Linked DNA regions of Homo sapiens. The protein of the gene in region 1 purifies or fractionates together with the protein of each later gene. This does not show direct contact. Each region holds a gene or a part of one and is shown in the gene's direction. Other genes may lie near its edges.

Region 1 (7,028 bases):
GGTGTATGTATCTGCTTTTATGCCAATATCATGCTGTTTTGGTTACTACAGCTTTGTAGTTTTGAAATCTTTAAATTTTTGAAATTTTGAAATTTTCTAGTTTTGAAATTTTGAAATCTTGTAGTGTGATACCTCCAGCTTTGTTCTTTTTTGCTTGGGATTGCTTTGACCATTCAGGCTATTTTTAGTTCCATATGAATTTTAAGATTGTTTCCTCTAATTCTGTGAAGAATTACATTGATATTTTGATAGAGCCAGGTTTGAATCTGTAGATTTCTTTGGGTAGTATAATCATTTTAGCAATATTAATTCATCTGATGAGTAAGGAATGTCTTTCCATTTGTTTGTATCCTCTTCAGTTTATTTCCTCAGTGTTTTGTAGTTTTTCTTATTAAGGCTTGTCACCTCCTTGGTTAAATTTATTCCTAGGTATACTTCATTCTCTTATAGCTATTGTAAATGTGATTGCCTTCCTGATTTATTTTCAGCTAATTCATTGTGTGTAGAAATGCTACTGATTTTTGTATATTGATTTTGCATCCTGCAAATTTACTAAATTCATTTATCAGTTCTGAGAGTTTTATTGTTAGAGTCTTTAGGTTTTTGTTTTGTTTTGTTTTGTTTTGTTTTGTTTTTGAGATGGAATTTCACCATGTTGGCCAAGCTGGTCTTGATCTCCTGGCCTCAAGCAATCTGCCCACTTTGGCCTCCTAAAGTGCTGGAATTACAGGCATGAGCCACCACGCCTGGCCAAGTCTTTAGGTTTTTGTATGTTATTTGCAGAGACAATTTGACTTCCGCCTTTCCAGTTTGGATGGTTTTTATTTCTTTCTCTTGCCTAATTGCTCTGGCTAGGACTTTCAGTACTATGTAAAATAAGAGTCATAACAGTGGACATCCAGTTCCTAGAGGAAAAGATTTCAGCTTTTCTCCATTCAGTATGATGTTAGCCATGGGTTTGTCATATATGGCCTTTTTTGTGTTGAGGTACTTTCCTTCTATACCTAATTTATTGAGAGTTTCTATCATGAAACAATATTGAATTTTAACACATGCTTTTTATTCTGCAACTATTTAGGTGATCATACGGTTTATGTCCTTCATTCTGTTGACATATGTATAACATTTATTGATTTGCATATGTTGAATCATTCTTGCCTTTCTGGGATTAATCCCACTTTATCATGGTATGTTATCTTTTTGATGTATTGTTGGATTTGATTTGCTACTATTTTGTTGAATATTTTTGCATCTATGTTCATCAGGGATATTGGCCTCTAGTTTTCTTTTTTTATTGTCTCCTTTCTGATTTTGGTGTCATGGTTATGCTGGCCTTGTAGAATGAGTTAGGAAGAGTTGCCTCCACTTCAATTTTTTGGAATAGTTTGAGAAGAGTTGGCATAATTTTTTTTTCTTTAAAGGTTCAGTAAAGTTCAGCACTGAAGCCATCCAGCCCTGGAATTTTCTTTGTTGGGGGGCCTTTTATTATTCATTCAATCTCATTACTTGTTGTTTGTCTGCTGAAGTTTTCTATACCTTCTTGATTCAATCTCGGTAGATTATATGTGTCCAGGAACTTATCCATTTCTTCTAGACTTTCAAATTTGTTGGCATATTGTTCATAGTAGTGTCTAAGATCCTGTGTATTTCTGTGGTAACCATTGTGACATCTTCTTTTTTATTTATGATTTTATTAATTTTTATGTCTTCTGTCTCTTTCTTAGTTTAGCTAATGATTGTCAATTTTATTTATTTTTCCAAAAAGCGAACTTGTTCATTGATTTTTTTTTAATTTCATTTATTTCTGCTCTGATCTTTATGATTTCTTTCATTGTGCTGATTTTGGATTTGGTTTGTTCTTGCTTTCTAGTTTCTTGAAATGCACAGTTAAATGGTTTACTTGAAATTTGTCTAATTGTTTGATGTAGGCATTTATTTCTCTCAAGTTGTCTCTTAAAACTGTTTTTGCTGTGTCCCATAGGTTTTGGTATATTTTATTTCTATTTTTATTTATTTTGAGAAATTTTTAAATATCATTCTTAATTTCTTCCTTCACTATTGGTCATTTAGAATCATTTTGTTTCATTTCTGTGTATTTGTATAGTTTGCATGTTTCCCTTGGTATTGATTTTTAGTTTTATTCAATTGTAGTCAAATAAGATACTTGATACATTTTGGTTTTTAAAAATTTTTGGCACTTGTTTTGTGTTCTAACATATGGTCGATCCTTGGGAATGTTGCACATGCTGATGAAACCATGTGTATTCTGCAGCTGTCGGTTGAAATGTTCTGTAAATATCTTAGGTTCATTTGGTATATGGTGCAGTTTAAATCCAACGTTTATTTGTTAATCTTGTCTAGATGATTTGTTCAATGCTGAGAGTGGGGCGTTGAAGTCCTCAACTATTATTGTATTGGAGTCTATCTCTCCCTTTATATCTAATAATATTTGCTTTACATATCTGGGTGCTCTGGTGTTGTGTGCATATGTATTTACAGTTGTTATATTATAGTGCTGAACTGACCCCTTTATAATAATATAATGTCCTTCTTTGTCTCTTTACAGCTTTTGACTTGTAGTCCGTTTTGTCTGAGATAAGTATAGCTATTCCTGCTTCCTTTCATTTCCACTTGGGTAGAATATCTTTTTCCATCTCTTCCTTTTCAGTCTATGTGTGTCTTCTAGGTGAGATAAGTTTCTTGTAAGCAGTATATAGCTGTGTTGGTAGAAGGGCTGAGGCAGGGCTTGCTTGTCTGACATAATGTAAAAGAGTCTTGGAACATGTCCTGGGTCCAGGGTCTCAAACCCCTCGTGGCCTATGGAACACCAAGCTCTGTGCCTAAGGGTGGAAGGCTGCCCTGCCACACTGCAATCTAAGCCCAGGGCATAAAACCCCTCGTGGCTTGGAAAGAATCCAGGGCTCTGGGCATAAAACCCCTCATAGCCTCTGGAATGTGTCCAGACTTGCTGGCCCCTTGCTCCTTGCTCTCCCAGGATCATAAATTGATTGTATCTTGAGTGAAAAGAACTTGTTCTCCATTATTTCAAGTAGCAGAGCATATGCTAAACCGTCACAGCTATGCTTGATGCACCGCTACCTTTCTACCCCAAAGTCCTCACGTTCTCACTTGTCTATCCCCACTTCTGCACGTCCTCACCACCTGCTTCTTTGTTTGATTACCAATAAATAGTGTGGGCTCCCAGAGCTCGGGGCCTTCACAGCCTCCATACTAGCGTCGGCCCCCTGGACTCACTTTATGTACTATTAACTTGTCTTGTCTCATTCCTTTGACTCCGCTGGACTTCGTGGCCCCCACGGCCTAGTGTTGGATCTGATCACCCCAACAAGCTGAGTCTAGATTTTCTTTTCATTCATTCAGGCAGTCCATATATTTTAAATGGGACAATTTAATCCATTTACATACACATTATTATTAATAGGTTATTTTCATTTCATTGATTGTTTTCTGATTGTTTTATATATTCCTGGTTCCTTACTTCCCCTCTTATTGTTTCTTTTTGTGGTTGGCTGATGTTTTTTTTTTTTTTGTAGTGATAAGATTTGATTCCTTTCTCTTTCTTCTTTGTGTATGGGCTGTCAGTGAGTTTTAAGTTCACGTGTTTTTGCCTTTTCACTTCCAGATGTAAGACTCCCTTGAGCATTTCTTTTCTTTTTCTTCTCTTATTTATTTTTATTATTTTTTTTTTGAGAAAGTGTCTCACTCTGTCGCCCAGGCAGGAGTGCAGTGGCATGATCACGGCTCACTATAGTCTCGACCTCCTGGGCTTAAGCAATCTTCCTGCCTTAACCTCCCAAGTAGCTGGGACTACAGGCATGTGCCACCACGCCCAGCTAATTTTTGTGTTTCTTGTAGAGGTAGGGTGTTGCCATTTGCCTAAGCTGGTCTCAAATTAAAGAGCTCAAGTGGTCCACCTGCCTGCCTTCACCTCCCAATGTGCTGGGATTATAGGCATGAGCCACACTGTGCCTGGCCCCTTGAGCATTTCTTGTAAGGCCAGTCTAAGAGTGATTAGAATTCCCTTAGTTTTTGCTTATCTATGAAATATTTTATTTCTCCTTCTTTTCTGAAAGATAGCTTTTCTGGGTATAGTATTTTTGACTGTTAAGTTTTTTATCTTTCAGTACTTTGAGTATGTCATCCCATTCTATCCTGGCCTATATAATGTTACTGCTGAGAAACTCACTGTTAGTCTAATAAGGATAATCCTATATGTGACTAGATACTTTTACCTTGCTGTTTTTACAATTCTTTACTTGACTTTTGACAATTTGGCATAATGAGCTTTGGAGAGGACTTGCTTGGGTTGAATATTTTGAGAGTACTTTGAGCTTCCTGGACCTGGATGTCCTTCTAGTTCCCAAGGCTTGGGAAGTTTTCACCTATTACTGGATTAAATATGTTTTCTACACCTTTTCCATTCTCTTCTCCTCCTGGAAATACCATAATGTGAATATTTGCTTGATTGTGTCCCATGAGTCCTGTAGGTTTCCTTCGTTCTATTTTATTCTCTTATTTTTACCTGCCTGTGTTATTTCAGAAGATCTGTCTTCAAGTTCAGAAATTATTTTTTCTTCTTGACCTAGCCTGTTGTTGAAGCTCTCGATTGCGGTTTTTTATTTCATTTATTGAGTTCTCAGCTGTAGGAGTTCTGCTTTGTTCTTTTATATAATATCTATCTCTCTGTTAAATTTCTCTTTCAAGTCATGAATTAAAACAATGGGACACAGGTGCCCAACTACTTGGCTGACCTGGGGGCATATCTGCTGGAGGTGCCAACATGGCTGTTTTGCAGGGCTGAGATGAAGCTGAATGACTCTTGGCTGGCCTAGGTGTGTTTTTGCCAGGAGTAGCACTCAGAGCTTTATCTAGGGTTTGGGATGTGAGTGTAAGACTGCTCAGCTGGCCTAGGGGGTGTACCAGCCAGTGGTAGCCCATGGGGCTGTTTCTCAGGCCTGGAATGCAAGCACATTCTGCCTGGGGTCATGTCTAAAAGGGTTGGCTCACAAGGCTGTTTCTCAGGCCCTAATTGTGGGAGAGTGGCCTTTGGGCAGGCCAGAGTCATGTCCACAGAAGGCGTCTGGGCACCGTAAGGCTGTTTCTCAGAGCCTGTGTGTGAGCACATAACCACTACCCCAGCCTGGGGATGTATCAACTCTTTGTTGGCTCAGAGGTCTCTCCCATTCAGGTGAGCATGCACAGTAGTTTGGCCAACTCAATTGTGTGTTCGCCCTGAGTGGGACTATAAGACCTTTCCTCCAGCTGGAAGTACGGGCAGCAGGGGTTGGTTTCTCTGCTGTTCAGGGCCAGAGTCCCAGCCAATCCTGGGCCCAGGCTCCATGCAGCTCTAATTGTGGTATTCAGCCACTACTGCAGGTTTAGTGGAATGAAGATGCACAATGATAAAGAGGTGCATGCCACTGGCCCCCAGAGGAGGGTGCACTCCAGAGATGGCTGTGGTCTCAAGATGGTTCTGTGTTGTAGCAGCTTGCCCGCAGGGGCTGGTTAGGGAGTTGGGAGTGCACACCAAATGCTCCATGCAGCTGTGTGAATTCCTGGCAGCTCTTCCAACTGTGCTCAGAGCTTGTGAGGACTGTAAGATTAACCTGTAGTAAGGAATGTAGGTATCTGCAGTGGCACTGGAGGTTGGTTGGATTCCTCTGCTTATCATTTCCCTACAAGGGGAAATCCTTCCTGTCTCTGGGACAAACCAATCTGGGCTGGGGAGATGGAGCTGCAAAGCCCGGGTGCCTCCATGCTGCCCTCCTGGGTTTCCAATTACCACAGGTAACTCTCCACTCCCTTGCTGCACTACACTACTCTCCCTTCGACACTCCACTCAAATCTTTGCTGTGGTTTATTCATTGCCTTGGTCCTTTCTTGTCTGGTGACACGGGGGAGGATGAGCTCCAGGCACCTCCGGTGAGCCATTTTGCTCCAATGGGGGCATTTTTTTTTAATAGGTTTTATTTTTCAGAGTAGTTTTTGTTTCACAGCAAAATTGAGTGGAATCTTCTAGTCGCTGATCATCTTGGGAGCATTTATAAATGAACCTTATTTTTCATGAAGAAATTGAGCAGAAGATACTAAGACTTCCCGTATGCCCTCTACCCTTACACATAGTTTCCCCGGCCATCAGCATCCCCCATCAGAGTGGTACATTTGTTACAGTCAATAAAACTACATTGACATATCATTGTCACCTGAAGCCCATAGTTTACATTAAAGTTCACTCTTGGTGTTGTACATTTTACAGGCTTTTTAAAAATGTATAATGACATGAATCCACCATGAGAGTATCATATAGAATAGTCACACTTCCCTAAAAATCTCTTTAGGGCATTTTTTTCTACTGTCCATACCTCAACCCTTAGCCCTGGCCTCTGTCCAAAGACCAGTGCTCTCTCCACTGCCCTATTCCAATTAATAATGGCATCTGGCACCTCAGTGGACAGTGAGCCCAGTGAGAGCAGGAACAGTTCCCTCAGTAGTGGTTATCAAACTGTTAACAATGATGCTCAGAGACACGCCCCTGACTCTGAGTGTTGGGACCTAGAAGGCACAGCCAGGCAGGTCCAGGAGAACTGTCTGGGTCTAAGAAGGTCTGAGAACCACCTCCCTGCCCCACCCTGCTTCCAGGCCCTTTTTAAGGCCAAAAGGACCACCTTTGACCCTAAGTGATGGGGCCAGTGGGAAGAAAGAAGAGACAAGGCCTATCAGCATTCCAGTGCTTTCTCTCTCTCTCATCCAAGAGGCTCAGAGCTTCACAGTCCTTCAGGGGCTATGTCTGAGGTTCATTTCAGAAAGACCCAGGGTGGAGAGGAACCTGAGTCCTAGGAGAGATGATGTTTTGTGCACCAGAGAGAGAGGGTGGGACAAGAGGTGTCAGGTGCACTGTGTACTTCATCTCATGGTCGTGGTCAATATTGATGTCTATGATGGGTGGGAAGATCTAGGAGCTAAACCCCATTTTGGAGGTGAAGTCACCCCTCTCTACATGCTGGAGA
Region 2 (7,028 bases), on another chromosome or scaffold:
CTGCCTCTGGTTGGCTGAAGCTTGGCTGCCTGTGATTGGTTGAAGCTCAGCCGCTTGTGATTGACTGAGATCTAGCTATCCTATTACAAAAAATATATACTCCTAATGAGATTTTCATTTGTATACATACTAAGTTAGGTTGTAGTTCACTGCGAAGCAACTCAAAGTACAGCCTCAGACCAATGGCCTTTTGCTTATTTAATTTAACAGACACCTGAGTTATGCTTGCTGGGTTTTCTCTCCCAATAAAGGGACCCTTCATTCTGTCTGTGCCATCACGTGTTTAAGATTCACTCAAGACCTATCTCCTCTAGAAAGCCTTCCCCACAAATCCATCCCATGCTGTGAACTGAAAGCTGGATGCTCTCTCCCACTCTTGTCCTCCCAATTTCAAATCCACACAATTTGGCTCCATTATGAATAAACAAATAGCCCAGGGGACCATGGATATTTAGAATAAGGTTCTAAGAATGACATTCTTCCAATATAAGCCAATTTGTAAAGGCATTTTTAAAAGGAAGGTTTGCTCAGAAAACCCAAGGGCTGGGTGCTACGGATGGCCCATGAATGTCTGTGGCACGTGGGCTGCAGTTCTGCCCTTCTCTCTCCTGTCTAGCTGCATGGTTTCCCATCTCTGCTTGTTGATGTATATCTGATTCCTTCTGATTGTCTGTCCAGCCGCTTCCCTCGTTCCATTGTGGCAGAGCTGCTCGCGCATCACGTGATTTTTCAGATTTAGCTTGCACGTTGGAGTGGCCAATTCTCCCTGGAGAGGGATTCTGATTGGCTGAGCCAGGCGTCTGAATTGGTTCCCATAAATCAGTGTGACCAGGAGAGCAGGGTCACATATTATGTAATTCTGTACGGCTATGGGAGAGGGAACATGATACTAACAATAACCATCAATACAATCAGCACTTAGTACATTCTAAGTACTTTCAGACATTGTTGCATTTAATCCTCACAAAACGCTTGTGACATAGGTAATGCTATTATTCTAGTTTTACGAATCAGAAAACCACTGCACAGAGAGGTGAAACAACTTATTTGGCACTACACAGCTGGCCAGTGGCTGAGTCAGGAAGGGAAGCAGGCAGCATGGTTCTGGCATCTGTGTCTCTAATCATGACTCAACATTGCTTGTCTTAAACAGGCATTGCTAGGATACCACATCTTCATCTTTTTTATCCTTCTTGGTACCTATGCATTGGGCACTGAATGCCTGTTCAGTGATTTTTTTTTTCTTTTTCTTTTTTGAGACAGGGTCTTACTCTGTCACCCAGGCTGGAGGCCAATGGTGTGATCACAACTCACTGCAGCCTCAACTTCCCGGGCTCAAGCCATCCTCCCATCTCAGCCTCCCAAGTAGCTGGGACTGCAGGTGCATACCACCACGCCTAGCTAATTCTTTATTTTTATTTTTTGTAGAGATGGGATTGTGCCATGTTGCCCAGGCTGGTCTCGAACTCCTGGGCTCAAGCCATCTGCCTGCCTCAGCCTCCCGAAGTGTTGGGATTTCAGGCGTGAGTGACCATGCTCAGCCTAGTCAATGAATTGTTCGCTGAATGAATGGATGCCTGAGTGAATGAGAGAACACACAGAAGCATGCATAGTCTACAGGAAGTTTGGAATGGGCAATTGTGACGTGGGTCCTTTTTGGAGAGGAGTGAAGATGGCAGTCCCAGCTACTTGGGAGGCTGAGATGGGAGGATGGCTTGAGCCCGGGAAGTTGGGGCTGCAGTGAGTTGTGATCACACCATTGCCCTCCAGGCTGGGTGACAGAGTAAGACCCTGTCTCAAAAAAGAAAAAGAAGCTTCTTCCTGCTGTAGCTTGCTGGAGAGTTAACGTGCACATGTTCAAAGCGCTGTCTTTCCCCATCTCTCTTTTTTTTTTTTTTTGCTCAGACAAGAGTGAGAATGGTGAGGCATATCAGAGAAAGAAGGCGGCAGCCACTGGCCTTCCAGAGGGTCCTGCTGTCCCTGTGCCTTCTCGAGGGAATCTGGCACAGCCCGGCGGCAGCAGCTGGAGGAGGATCGCACTGCTCATCTTGGCCATCACTATACACAACGTTCCAGGTGAGGTCTTGCCCGTGAGCGTGACAGCCACTGCCTGAAGGTAAAGTCATTTGTCAGCACAGTTGTCTGGCTGGAAAAGGGGAAGGGGCAATTGTGACGTGGGTCCTTTTTGGAGAGGAGTGAAGGTGGCAGTACAAATCTTTCTTGGCTTTATTTTTTGATCGTCATAGATAGATCATCATATGTGAAAACTTCCCATTCCGGTTAGTTTAAACAACTTCTACTTCCTTTTTGTTTACATATTTGTTACCAAGTTATTTGGAGCATAAATTCATAACTGTTACATGATTGCTGTGGAGGGTATCTTTTATAAATACTGGGTATCTCTGGTTCTGCTTAATGCTATTTGAAAACATAGTTGACCCTTGAACAACACAGATCTGAACTACGTGAGTTCACTTACACTCAGATTTTCTTCCGCCTCTGCCCCCTGAGAGAGCAAGACCAACCCCTCCTCTTCCTCAGCTGACTCAATGTGAAGAGGATGAGGATGAGACCTTTATGATGACTCACTTCCACTTAATGAATAGTAAATATATGTTATCTTATGAATTCCTTAATAACATTTTTTCTTGAGATTGCTATATTGTAAGAATACAGTTTATAATACATATAACATACACTATATGTACTAATTGACTATGTTATTGGTAAGACTTCTGGTCAACAGCAGGTTATTCATAGTTAAGTTTTGGGGAAGCCAAAAACTCTCTGCAGATTTTCTACTGCGCAGGGAACCAGCATTCCTAACGTCTGCATTGTTCGAGGGTCAAGTCTATTGAGTTCAGTATAATTTGGCACTGATAATTGCCTTACCTGCCTTCTTTATGTGGGCATCTTTCTGAAATGTTCTTACCAATCCTTTCCTATTTAGCATTTTAGAGTAATTTCTTTTATGTCTTTTTTTTTTTTTAAGACAGAGTCTTGCTCTGTCCCCCAGGCTGGAGTGCAGTGGAGCGATCTTGGCTTACTGCAGCCTCTGCCTCCTGGGTTCAAGTGATTCTCCTGCCACAGCCTCTTGAGTAGCTGGGATTACAGGTGTGCACCACCATGCCTTGCTAATTTTTTGTATTTTTAGTAGAGATGGGGTTTCACCATGTTGGCCAGGCTGGTCTTGAACTCCTGACCTCAGGTCATCCACCTGCCTCGGCCCCTCAAAGTGTTGGGACTACAGGCGTGAGCTACCACGCTGGCCTGTTTTATGTCTTTAGATGTATTTTAATTGGAAAAAAGGACATATTAATGCCTTATTTCAAAAACAATGAATGTTTCTTTTAGAGCAACTAGAAAACATGATTAAGCATAGGAAATGATAAAGATATTTTTAAAAATAAATAAACTGAGGGAACCTGAGCAATTTGGGATGCATTTTGAAATTCCAACTCTCTCACTTCCTAAGGAGGTTATCTTGACGAATTGCTTGAACTCCCTGAACCTTGGTTTTCTCATCTAAGAAATGGGGATAATGCCACAAGTGGCTTACTTAGAGAATTAAATGAGATGCTAAATATACATACAGCTTTCAGTACAGTGCTTGGGACTTACGAGCGCATTGTTGGCATCGATGATACTCCTGCTGCCTTTTCAGCCATGATTTCCTCGATCTTGAGATCTTAAACATGCTGACCCACCTTTTGTTGTTTGGGAATTCGAGTTTGAGCAATAATCTTCCCCAGGGAGCATCCTTGGGTGATACATTTTCTGAGTCCTTGCAGAGTTCATGGTGCCAATCTGTTACTCTAATACAGGAGCAAGAACTTGGCTGGGCAAAGCTTTCTAGTCATGACATTTTTCTCTACAAAGCTTCTGCAGATGTTGATCCCTTGTCTTCTGGCTTTAGTATTGTGGAAGCAAAAAGCATGGCCAAAGTGAGTCTGTTCCTCTGTATAACTTGATATTGTTTTGCTTGCACAATGAAGACTTTTTTTTGTCGTCTTTAAAGTGTGAAAATTCTAATACATATTATATATTCTAGTATATATTAAATCTGCCGAAAGCACTATGTGTTTAATTACTTTTTAAGCTCAGATATTTCTCTAGATAAGAAGCACATTCCTCTGTTATTTCTATCCTAATCTTAGGAATGTCTATCATACGATCATAGGTAGGCCAGTTTTCCCAACATTTTCATCAGTTTATGTGTCTCCCTCATTCCCCTCTTGACCCTTTTCTTTGAGTTATGAATAAGCTTTTTTTAGTTGGTTTTCCAATTTTTTTTTTTTTTTTTTTTATGAGACAGAGTCTCGCTCTGTCGCCCAGGCTGGAGTGCAGTGGTGCAGTCTCAGCTCACTTCAATCTCCACTTCCCGGTTCAAGCAATTCTCCTGTCTCGGCCTCCCGAGTAGCTGGGATTAAAGATGTGTGCCATCATGCCCAGCTAATTTTTGTATTTTTCGAAGAGACGGGGTTTCACCATGTTGGCCAGGCTGGTCTTAAACTCCCGGCCTCAAGTGATTAGCCCACCTCAGCCTCTCAAAGTGCTGGGATTACGGGCATGAGCCACAGCATCTGACCCTGTTGGTTTTCTAGATCTTGGTATTCAGTATGTCTTGAGATAAAGATGGGGTCTTATATGGACCTCACTGCACAAAGATGGCCAAAGTGGGTTAGCCTTGGTGGAAGACCCTGCTCGTGCCCACCCCGTATCTTAAAGAGGTCATTGAAAGACCCCTTGGTCCCCTGCAGAGGACTACTTAGGAGCCCTGACAGCAACTTGTAGCCTGTTAAGTGCTAATAGTTAGAGAAGAGAGGTTACTTGTTTTTCATTCATAATAGTAGCTGTCTTTCTGCCATTTATGACCCCTTCTTTAGCCAATTGAGGAAGAGTAAAGATCTGCCCAGTGGGTTTAGTGTTAAATAAGGTAACTACACTGAGGTGTATTACGGCAACTATTTCTCTGAAGAACAAAAATGTGGTCTAAGGTCCAGACTTTATAGCAATGGAATGAGTATCCAACTTTCCTCTAATGGACCCTTTTATATACCACACCTGCCACTGTACTTGGGTGATTCATTATGCTCAGCTGGAATTATTTCCTGGCTCATCCCAATGGAAGGCCAGGATGGTTCAGAGTTTACTTTCTCAAATGTTTGTTGACTCCAGTGACAACTTGGAATAAAGCCAGAAACAGGAGGAAGATGTGTGGAATGACAGCAATATTTGATGATCTTAAATGAGCATAAATTAAAATCTTACTTCTTCCCTGACAGGAGACCCTATTCTGTGTCTTTGGAGTTTCCAAGTCTAAGTTCAGCCTTTGTCACTTCTATGGTGATGCAAAAGTATTTTTTCAAATAAGGATTGAGGCCAGGTGCAGTGGCTCATGCCTGTAATCCCAGCACTTTGGGAAGCCAAGGTGGGCGGATCACTTGAGGTCAGGAGTTTGAGACCAGCCTGGCCAACATGGCGAAACCCCGTCTCTACTAAAAATACAAAAATTAGCTGGGAGTGGTGGCACATGCCTGTAATCCCAGCTACTTGGGAGGCTGAGGCAGGAGAATCACTTGAACCCAGGAGGCAGAGGTTGCAGTGAGCCAAGATCATGCTACTGCACTGCAGCCTGGGCGACAAAGCAAGGCTCTGTCTCAAAAAAAAAAAAAAAAAAAAAAAAAAAAAGAGAGAGAGAGAGAGAGATTCATTGGTTTGAAAGATGGATTCTCTTATCTCCACACTCCATCCTGGGTGACACAGCGAGACTCCGTCTCAAAAATAATAGTAAAATAAAAAATAAATTGAAATGAGGATTGAGTGCCTTCCAGGAATCTCAATTGAGTTAGATTTCACCAGAAGCATGGTGGTAATAGTCACTGGTTTCAGTAAACTGGAGGACAGCTGGCTTGACTGGATGGAGAGGTTTGAAGGGACATTTCTTTCCCAGTCTTGTCTTTTATTTATTATATTTGAGTATTGTATTCCATGTACTTGGGTTATATCAGTACTAAAACAGACCAAGATCTCTGGCCTTCTATAACCAATATTATAGCAAGGTGAGATAGTCGATGAACATCATCATAATAAATGAATTTTATATTGTGTTAGAAGGTGGTTAGTGATTTAAAAAAAGAAAAAGTTCAACAGGGCAGAGGAGACGGTAGAGTGTTAGAGGAAGAAATTGCCATTTTAAATAGAGTAGGTAGGGAGGGGCTCCTTGAGATGTCCTTGAATTTGAGTCAGTCATGCAGATCTCTGGGAAACAGTGAGTGTTTTAGGCAGAGGGAACAGCCAGTGCAAAGGCCCTGAGGCAGGAGCATGTCTGGCCCCCACAAGGAGTAGCCAAGAGTCCACTGTGGCCACAGCAGGGTGAGCAGCAGGGAGAGAAGTACAAGGTGAGGGCAGGGATGTCAGCCCCTCCTTTAGATGGAACTTGGAGGCATAAGAATGTTTGTTTTTGCTCTGTGTGTGATGAGCCATTGCAGAGTTTTGAAGAGGGTGTGTATGACTTGACTTGAGCTTTGAAAGTTTGTTTCTCTTTAGATACTGAATTGAGATGGGACTTAGGAGAGGTAAGGATGGAAGCAGGGAGGCCTATGTAGAGGCCACTGCAGAATCCAGATCAAAGATGATAGTGGTGCAGACCAAGGTGGTCGTGCTGGATGTGGTGAGAAGGGATCCCTTCCTGGGTCCCGATTGAAGGTGGAGCCAATGGGATTTGCCGATGGATTGGATGTGGGATATGAGAGAAAGCGAGGAGCCAGGAGGGACCCGGAGGTTTCAGGGCTGCCCAGCTGCAGGGATGGAATTGCCATCAACTGAGACGAGGAAGGCTGCAGCTCCAGGGGCTTTAGGGGGACTATCAGGAATTTGTTTTTTGATTGTGAGGTTTGATTGCCATTAGACATTCAAATGGAGATACTGACTAGACAGCTGGATACATGAGTTTGGAGTTGGCTTGCAAAGTCTAGCTAGAGTTATAGATTTCTGAATCATTGGCCCATGAATGTTTTTTGTTTTTT
Region 3 (6,952 bases), on another chromosome or scaffold:
CCACTCACTGCAGTCTCAACTTCTTGGGCTCAAGCTACCCTCCCACCTCAACCTCCTGAGTAGCTGGGACTACAGGTGCTCCCCACCACACCTGGCTAATTTTAAAAAGAACATTTGTAGAGACAGGGTCTTACTATGTTGCCCAGGTTGGTCTTGAACTCCTGGGCTCAAGTGATCCTCCCACCTTAGCCTCCCAAAATGCTGAGATTACAGGCATGAGAACACCGTACCTGGCCTGTACAGTACTTTCAATAACCTTTGAGTAACTAGGGAAGGCATGAATTGACTTGTGTTCAGGATCAAAGTGAGAGATATTGGGACAAAAAAAAAGAAAGGAAAAAAAACCTGCTTTCTGGTTATAAAATGTAATTCTGTTTGATTAGCACACTGATGACATTGGAGAGTGTGTAATAACTAAGGATTATGATTAATCCAATTCTGTGCACCTGAGATCCAAAGAGAAAAGAAAAAAAACAAAACTCATGGAGCCTAGCTGTGAGTATCAGACTCAAATAAAAGTTGAGAAGACATTGGGAGGTTATCTCAGTAATGCCAACAACTTACAAATGAATTTTAGACTGGCCTCTTTCTTTTTTTTTTTTTTTTTTGAGACAGGATCTCACTCTGTCACCCAGGCTGGAGTGCACCGGTGCGATTTCAGCTCACTGCAACATCCACCTCCCAGGCTCAAGCCATCTTCCCAGCTGGGAATACAGGTGTGCGCAACCATGCCTGGCTAATTTTCATATTTTTTGTAGAGACCAGGTTTCTCCATGTTTTCCAGGCTGGTCTTGAACTCCTGACCTCAAGTGATCAGCCCACCTCAGCCTCCCAAAGTGCTAGGATTATAGGCATGAGCCATCGCGCCCAGTCCTGGCCTCTTCTTTTTAAAACTCATTTTTATTTTATTAAGAATAAAACAAATAATATACCATGAGTATATGTCAAAATTTAACATAAATTATATATCATAAACCAGCAAGTATTGAATTGTGGACTCACATCAATATGATGGTTGGTAAACATAACCTATATGTGTGTATATGATAAAAGAAATGAGTTGGGAGGCCGAGGCGGTGGATCACGAGGTCAGGAGATCGAGACCATCCTGGCCAGCATGGTGAAACCCCGTCTCTACTAAAAATACAAAGAATATTAGCCAGGCGTGGTGGTGGGCACTTGTAGTCCCAGCTACTCGGGAGGCTGAGGCAGGAGAATGGTGTGAACCCGGGAGGCGGAGCTTGCGGTGAGCCGAGATCGTGCCACTGCACTCCAGCCTGGGCGACAGAGCGAGACTCCATCTCAAAAGATAAATAAATACATTAATTAATTAAAATAAAATAAATAAAAGAAATGAGCTGGGTATGGTTGCTCATGCCTGTAATCTTAACACTTTTGGAGGCTGAGGTGGGAGGATCACTTGAGATCAGGAGTTGGAGACCAGCCTGAGCAACACAGGGAGACCTTCTGTCTCCAAAAAGGTAACTCTCTGCAAGCCTGACTGCTGAAACTGCCTCTTGTAAACGGAGACCAGTTTTATCTAACAACTGCTGAAACAACCTACTGTGACTCTAAGACTAATTTTACCTGCTGCCATCTCTCACCAATCCTAGCTTGCAAGCTCCCCCAAACCTTACTAAAACCAATAAAATTTCTTTCAAAACAACGTGTAACATTTCTCCTTTTTATAAAAGCCCCAACCTTCTCTTTGTACTTCAGATATATTGAAGACGCCCACCTGTCTCATCTGTGTGTATGCCCTGAATTGTAATTCTTACTTTCTAAATCAATTGCTTTAAATTTAGAGATTCATCTCTATGTTTTGTTTGACTTTGACGTAAGTATCACAGTAATTCTAGGCAAACATTGGACACCTTCATTATGTTTTCTAATATAGTTATGACTGAGTATTTAAAATATTCATGTGGACATTTTATTTTAAATAATTTCGGCCGGGCGCGGTGGCCCGCGCCTGTAATCCCAGCACTTTGGTAGGCCGAGGCGGGCGGATCACGAGGTCAGGAGATCGAGACCATCCTGGCTAACACGGTGAAACCCCGTCCCTACTAAAAATACAAAAAAAAAATTAGCCGGGCGAGGTGGCGGGAGCCTGTAGTCCCAGCTACTCTGAAGGCTGAGGCAGGAGAATGACGGGAACCCCAAGGGGCGGAGCCTGCAGTGAGCCGAGATCGCGCCACTGCACTCCAGCCTGGGCGACAGCGAGACTCCGTCTCAAAATAAATAAAATAAATAAATAAATAAATAATTTCATGTCTCCATTCCTGTTTGGTCATTATATTGATATTTTTGAAATTTCATGTGGAAGTAGCTTATATCATCTATAAATTTAATTCCATTAAATCAAAGTGGGTACTTGTAAATCAATTCCATCATAGGTAATTTTTTTAGTTTAATGTTTACGATTCTTATGGAGAAAGAAGTGTTTTTCATTTACCTTTGCATGGGTGCTTAAAATACACATTTCTATTTCAAGATGACACTGAAAAATTCTTCTAATATAACAGCAGCAAAAATGTAATTCTGCAATTACAAAAGTGCTAAACTGAAATCCATAATTAAGGTTTTCTCATGTTTACAATTGTGGTTCTTTAATCAATACTAATACTATGCAGGTCTGTTGTAAGGTTTCTAGATTCGGTTTAAACACACGCACACAATACTGTCAGTTGTAGGAGGCTTTACAAGTTATATTTCATGCACTTTTTTTTAAAGAGTTCTAAAAGAGCCAACCAGTCCACAAGACAGACAGAAAAAAAGTTAAATTAACTGGAGTAAATTGGACTCTTAACATTCGAAACATGCAAGATTCTGCAGCAAACTGGGAGTACTTCAGGATTGGCCTGCTATCTTCCTTAGTATTAATTTCATCTTAACAGTTTAAGAAGTTGGACATTTTAACACCATCAAGCGCATTTAGGTGACGTGTTTCTTGTGTGTTAACTTGGCTCCCCGGAATGATCTAGTTAGTGAACTAGTCACTAATAATTTGGTCACCAGGCAAATCAAGCCTACACGAAAGGAAGCGACTATTCAAAATACCGTAGTATCATCTGAACCTACCCAAATAATTTATGTTCAACATAAACATGTAACTTCAATAATGAGATGACTCATTAATGAGTCAAGCTCCTCCAACAAGACAAAGACAACATCTCTTCTTCTAAGGTTTAAGTTTTGCATAGAAATCCGGATACATGGAATAGCCCATACCAACAGTCATTGCTCCTACAACAAAGCTGGACTGCCACACGCATGTGGATCAGGTGACGTGATATTTTAGTATTTCCCCTGCTTTTCAATTTGTATAATCCGTATGCAGCAACTACTGCAAAACCTGCCATTCCAATGGGGACAAATGGTGCCTCTTTAGTTTTTCGAATCACTTTGGATCCCTGGAATCCCTCACAAGCCATCCAGCTTCCCCTACGGATATTTTTAGGAATGGCAACAGTGGCCAGAGATCAGAGGATTATATTATTAGGGTTATACAACTTTTATATAAAAAAAGTGGCTTCTGACCAGGCGCGGTGGCTCACGTTTGTAATCCCAACACTTTGGGAGGCCGAGGCAGAAGGATTGCTTGAGCCAGAAGTTCGAGACCAGCCTGGGCAACATAGATCAGAAGGCGAATAGAATAAGTCCGCTAGCTTTGAGATTCACATCTGTTCCTGAGGCTTCCTCACTGCTCCCCACCCTTCCTTCTTCAATCAGTCTAAGAGCTCCTGGAGAAATGGAACACCTGATTCAGTGAGGGTGACAAATAATTATGAGTATGTTCGTGCCAGGGTCCTCGATAGGATGGGGTGGGGGAGGTCAAGCCGCCTTGGCAGCTGGCCAGGCTCCGAACAGCAGATGGCGCTGTAGGGGGAGTCCCACCGGGTACGCCGGGCGCTCTGGCACTAGGGCGCCGGTCGTCTCCTCCGCAGCTTCCGGCACGGCCTTCAAGCGCGGGACGCGACAAAGTCATGGACCGCAACCCCTCGCCGCCGCCGCCGGGTCGCGACAAGGAGGAGGAGGAGGAGGTGGCCGGTGGAGACTGCATAGGGAGCACGGTCTACAGCAAACACTGGCTCTTCGGCGTCCTCAGCGGACTCATCCAGGTGTGGAAACTCGCGCCACGCGTGGGGTGTCCCTACATCCCCCAGGCACCGGGGCTCCGCCTCTGGCGAATCCTCCTGCCCCGGGAGCCGCCATCCCCACAAAGACCCCTCCCCAGGCGTGCGCTGCGGGACCTTGCTCCTTGCGTTTCGCCGGCCGCTGCGGACCCCAAAACTATCTGGGCCCCCTCGGGGTCTCTCGACACAAAGGGAAGTATAATGGTAGGGATGCTGAAATACTTGCCGTTCTATTTTGCTTTCCCAAGTTCTCCAAAAATACATGATCGTGTAACTGCATTCCTCGGGTTTTGCTCCCCATCCCCACTGTCATTTCTGAAGCCCAGGTCCTTAATTTATGTATTTCATGGACTATCGTTGTAATAGAATAAATGGTGACTTTAGGGTTATACAACTTTTATATTAAAAACGTGGCTTCTGACCAGGCGCGGTGGCTCACCTCTGTAATCCCAACACTTTGGGAGGCCGAGGCGGAAGGATCGCTTGAGCCAGGAGTTTGAGACCAGCCTGGGCAACATAGACCTGGTTTCTACAAACTTAAAAAAAAAAAAAAAAAAAAGCCGGTCGTGACGGTGCACGCCTGTAGTCCCAGCGACTCAGGAGGCTGAGGCTGGAGGATCGCTTGAGCCTGAAGTTGGAGGCTGCAGTGAGCTATGATCCAGCTTCTGCACTCCAGGCTGGGGGACGGAGTAAGACCCTGTCTCAAAAAAACAAAAAACGCAGCTTCCTTACCCACTAGCTGCAGGTCACCTAACGGCTCAGAACCTCTATTTGTCCCTTAATTTCTATAAAATGGGATTATAATATTTATATTATATATAAGGTTATTGTGTAGGTTAAGTGAGATTATAATGGCAACAGAGTGCTTAGCATGGTGTTTGGCTTATAGGAGGCTGTCAGTAAATGTGTTTTCTTCCCCCCATGTTTCCCTAATTGGTTCCTCTCCTCCTATTGTCTATCCTCTCCAGTCAATTTTCTACACAGCTGCCAGAATAATCTTCTTTAAAGACAGGGCTATTCATGATACTGCTCTTAGTTCTTTTTGCCTGGGAGAAAAATGCATGTTTCTTGAAGTTTGGAATCCAGGGCTGTTTGTACATTTTCCAGCCTCATCTTCTCATGATACACTGTGTTCCATCAACTCTGAACTGTTCACCATCCCCAAACATGCTAGGCCCTTTCTTAACTCTGAACTCTTGTGCTTTCCTCTGAATACTCACTTCTCTCCTTCTTCACATGACAAACTACTATTCTTCCTTTAAAATTTAGCTTAAATATCAGCACCTAAGGGAAGGTTCCCCATCTTCTCCTAGGAATAGGTCATTGGTCCATCGTTTTTGCTACCAGAACTCTTTGTCCACAATTCAGTTGAATCACTTTGCCTTTTCTAATATGACTATCCCTTTACATGTCTTTCCCCACTAGATCCTAAAAGTTAAAAAAAAAAAAAAGCTTAAATGTAAGGGATTATATCTTACTTGTCTTTGTATATCTACCCCAGTGCCTAGCAACAGTATTTACTTTGTGAATGTTGAAAGAGTAGATCTACCCAAGGTACTACATTTTTAAAAGAAGATTTTTGCAAGAGAAGATACTTTGCTGATAGCCTCTTTGTGACTTCTAAACGATTATGGGTTAATATTAAAGTAAGTGCTCACTTAACATCAGTAGGTTCTTGGAAATTGTGACTGTAAGCAAAATTACTGATAATGAAACCAATTTTACCATAGCTAATTGATATAAACAAGAGTTAAGTCCCTGTGGCATATTTCTGGACACAAGAACATCACCAAACTTCTAAATGAGGACCTAAAACACTTCTAATATTAAACATTGAGATAAATGTGAGCTATAATACGTTTAGGAAAGGTTAATAAAAACAAGATAATTATTCACCCAGTTTTGGTGAGTTAGTGAGTGATGGTGGTTGTAGTGATTATCACTACAACCTTTATTCTTTGATTGTGTTAAATCAAGGAATAAATGTTTACAAAGCAAAAATGATCACCTCTTACTACTGTACAGTCCAAAAACAATAACAAATAAGGCAGGCTTACTGAGCACTTTCCTACCACATAATTATTGTCACGCATCTCTATGGTTATTGTCTTCTTTACAGATTTTTGTTTTATAATAATTTGTATTCATCCATTTCCCAACCCACTTGCTCTGGTTCAGGGTTGAGGGTGGCTGGAGCCTGTACCAGCAGTTCAAGGTGCAAGGCAGAAACCAGCCCTGGACAGGATGCCATCCCATCACAGGTACACACACACCCACACTCACTCAGATTGGGACCATTTAGATACCCGTTGTGCTAATGTGCAAATTTGGGGGATGTAGGAGGAAACTAAAGTACCTGGAACAGACTCATGCACTCTTGGGGAGAACATGCAAACTCCACACAGACAGTGGCCCTGGCCAGGAATCAAATTTTTTTCTCATCAGCGTTACGAGGAAATGTTATTTGATCACCTGCTGTATTTGGGTACCTGGTTAGTATTGTAGACAACTTTTATTCATGTTTTCTTTCTTTGTGTTTCTGAAGATTGTTAGCCCTGAAAACACCAAATCTAGCTCAGATGATGAGGAGCAGCTGACGGAGCTTGATGAAGAAATGGAGAATGAAATTTGCAGAGTATGGGATATGTCAATGGATGAGGTATGAGGCTGGAAACAAAACTCTGAAGACTGTTGGGTGAGGAGATGGTGAATGAATGTTTTAAAAACGGTTCAGTCCTTCACTCTGGGGAAAGGCTTTATCTCCTGTCTGTAATCACACCCATATATGATATAGGGAATGAGATCCCAGGGGCTAT

The links.
Region 2: the proteins of CD33 (region 1) and SLC39A11 purify together in Homo sapiens (affinity purification with mass spectrometry; 4 studies listed by BioGRID and IntAct, with this or other methods). This does not show direct contact.
Region 3: the proteins of CD33 (region 1) and SAAL1 purify together in Homo sapiens (affinity purification with mass spectrometry; 2 studies listed by BioGRID and IntAct, with this or other methods). This does not show direct contact.

What each region holds. Positions count from the first base shown.
Region 1 is NC_000019.10:51,228,068-51,235,095, forward strand, and holds part of CD33 (myeloid cell surface antigen CD33 isoform 1 precursor), read left to right. Parts: intron 1-7,028. UniProt on the Homo sapiens protein: Sialic-acid-binding immunoglobulin-like lectin (Siglec) that plays a role in mediating cell-cell interactions and in maintaining immune cells in a resting state.
Region 2 is NC_000017.11:72,844,682-72,851,709, reverse strand, and holds part of SLC39A11 (zinc transporter ZIP11), read left to right. Parts: intron 1-1,905; coding exon 1,906-2,076; intron 2,077-7,028. UniProt on the Homo sapiens protein: Zinc importer that regulates cytosolic zinc concentrations either via zinc influx from the extracellular compartment or efflux from intracellular organelles such as Golgi apparatus. May transport copper ions as well.
Region 3 is NC_000011.10:18,103,076-18,110,027, reverse strand, and holds the start of SAAL1 (protein SAAL1), read left to right. Parts: upstream 1-3,945; 5' UTR 3,946-3,986; coding exon 3,987-4,121; intron 4,122-6,681; coding exon 6,682-6,795; intron 6,796-6,952. UniProt on the Homo sapiens protein: Plays a role in promoting the proliferation of synovial fibroblasts in response to pro-inflammatory stimuli.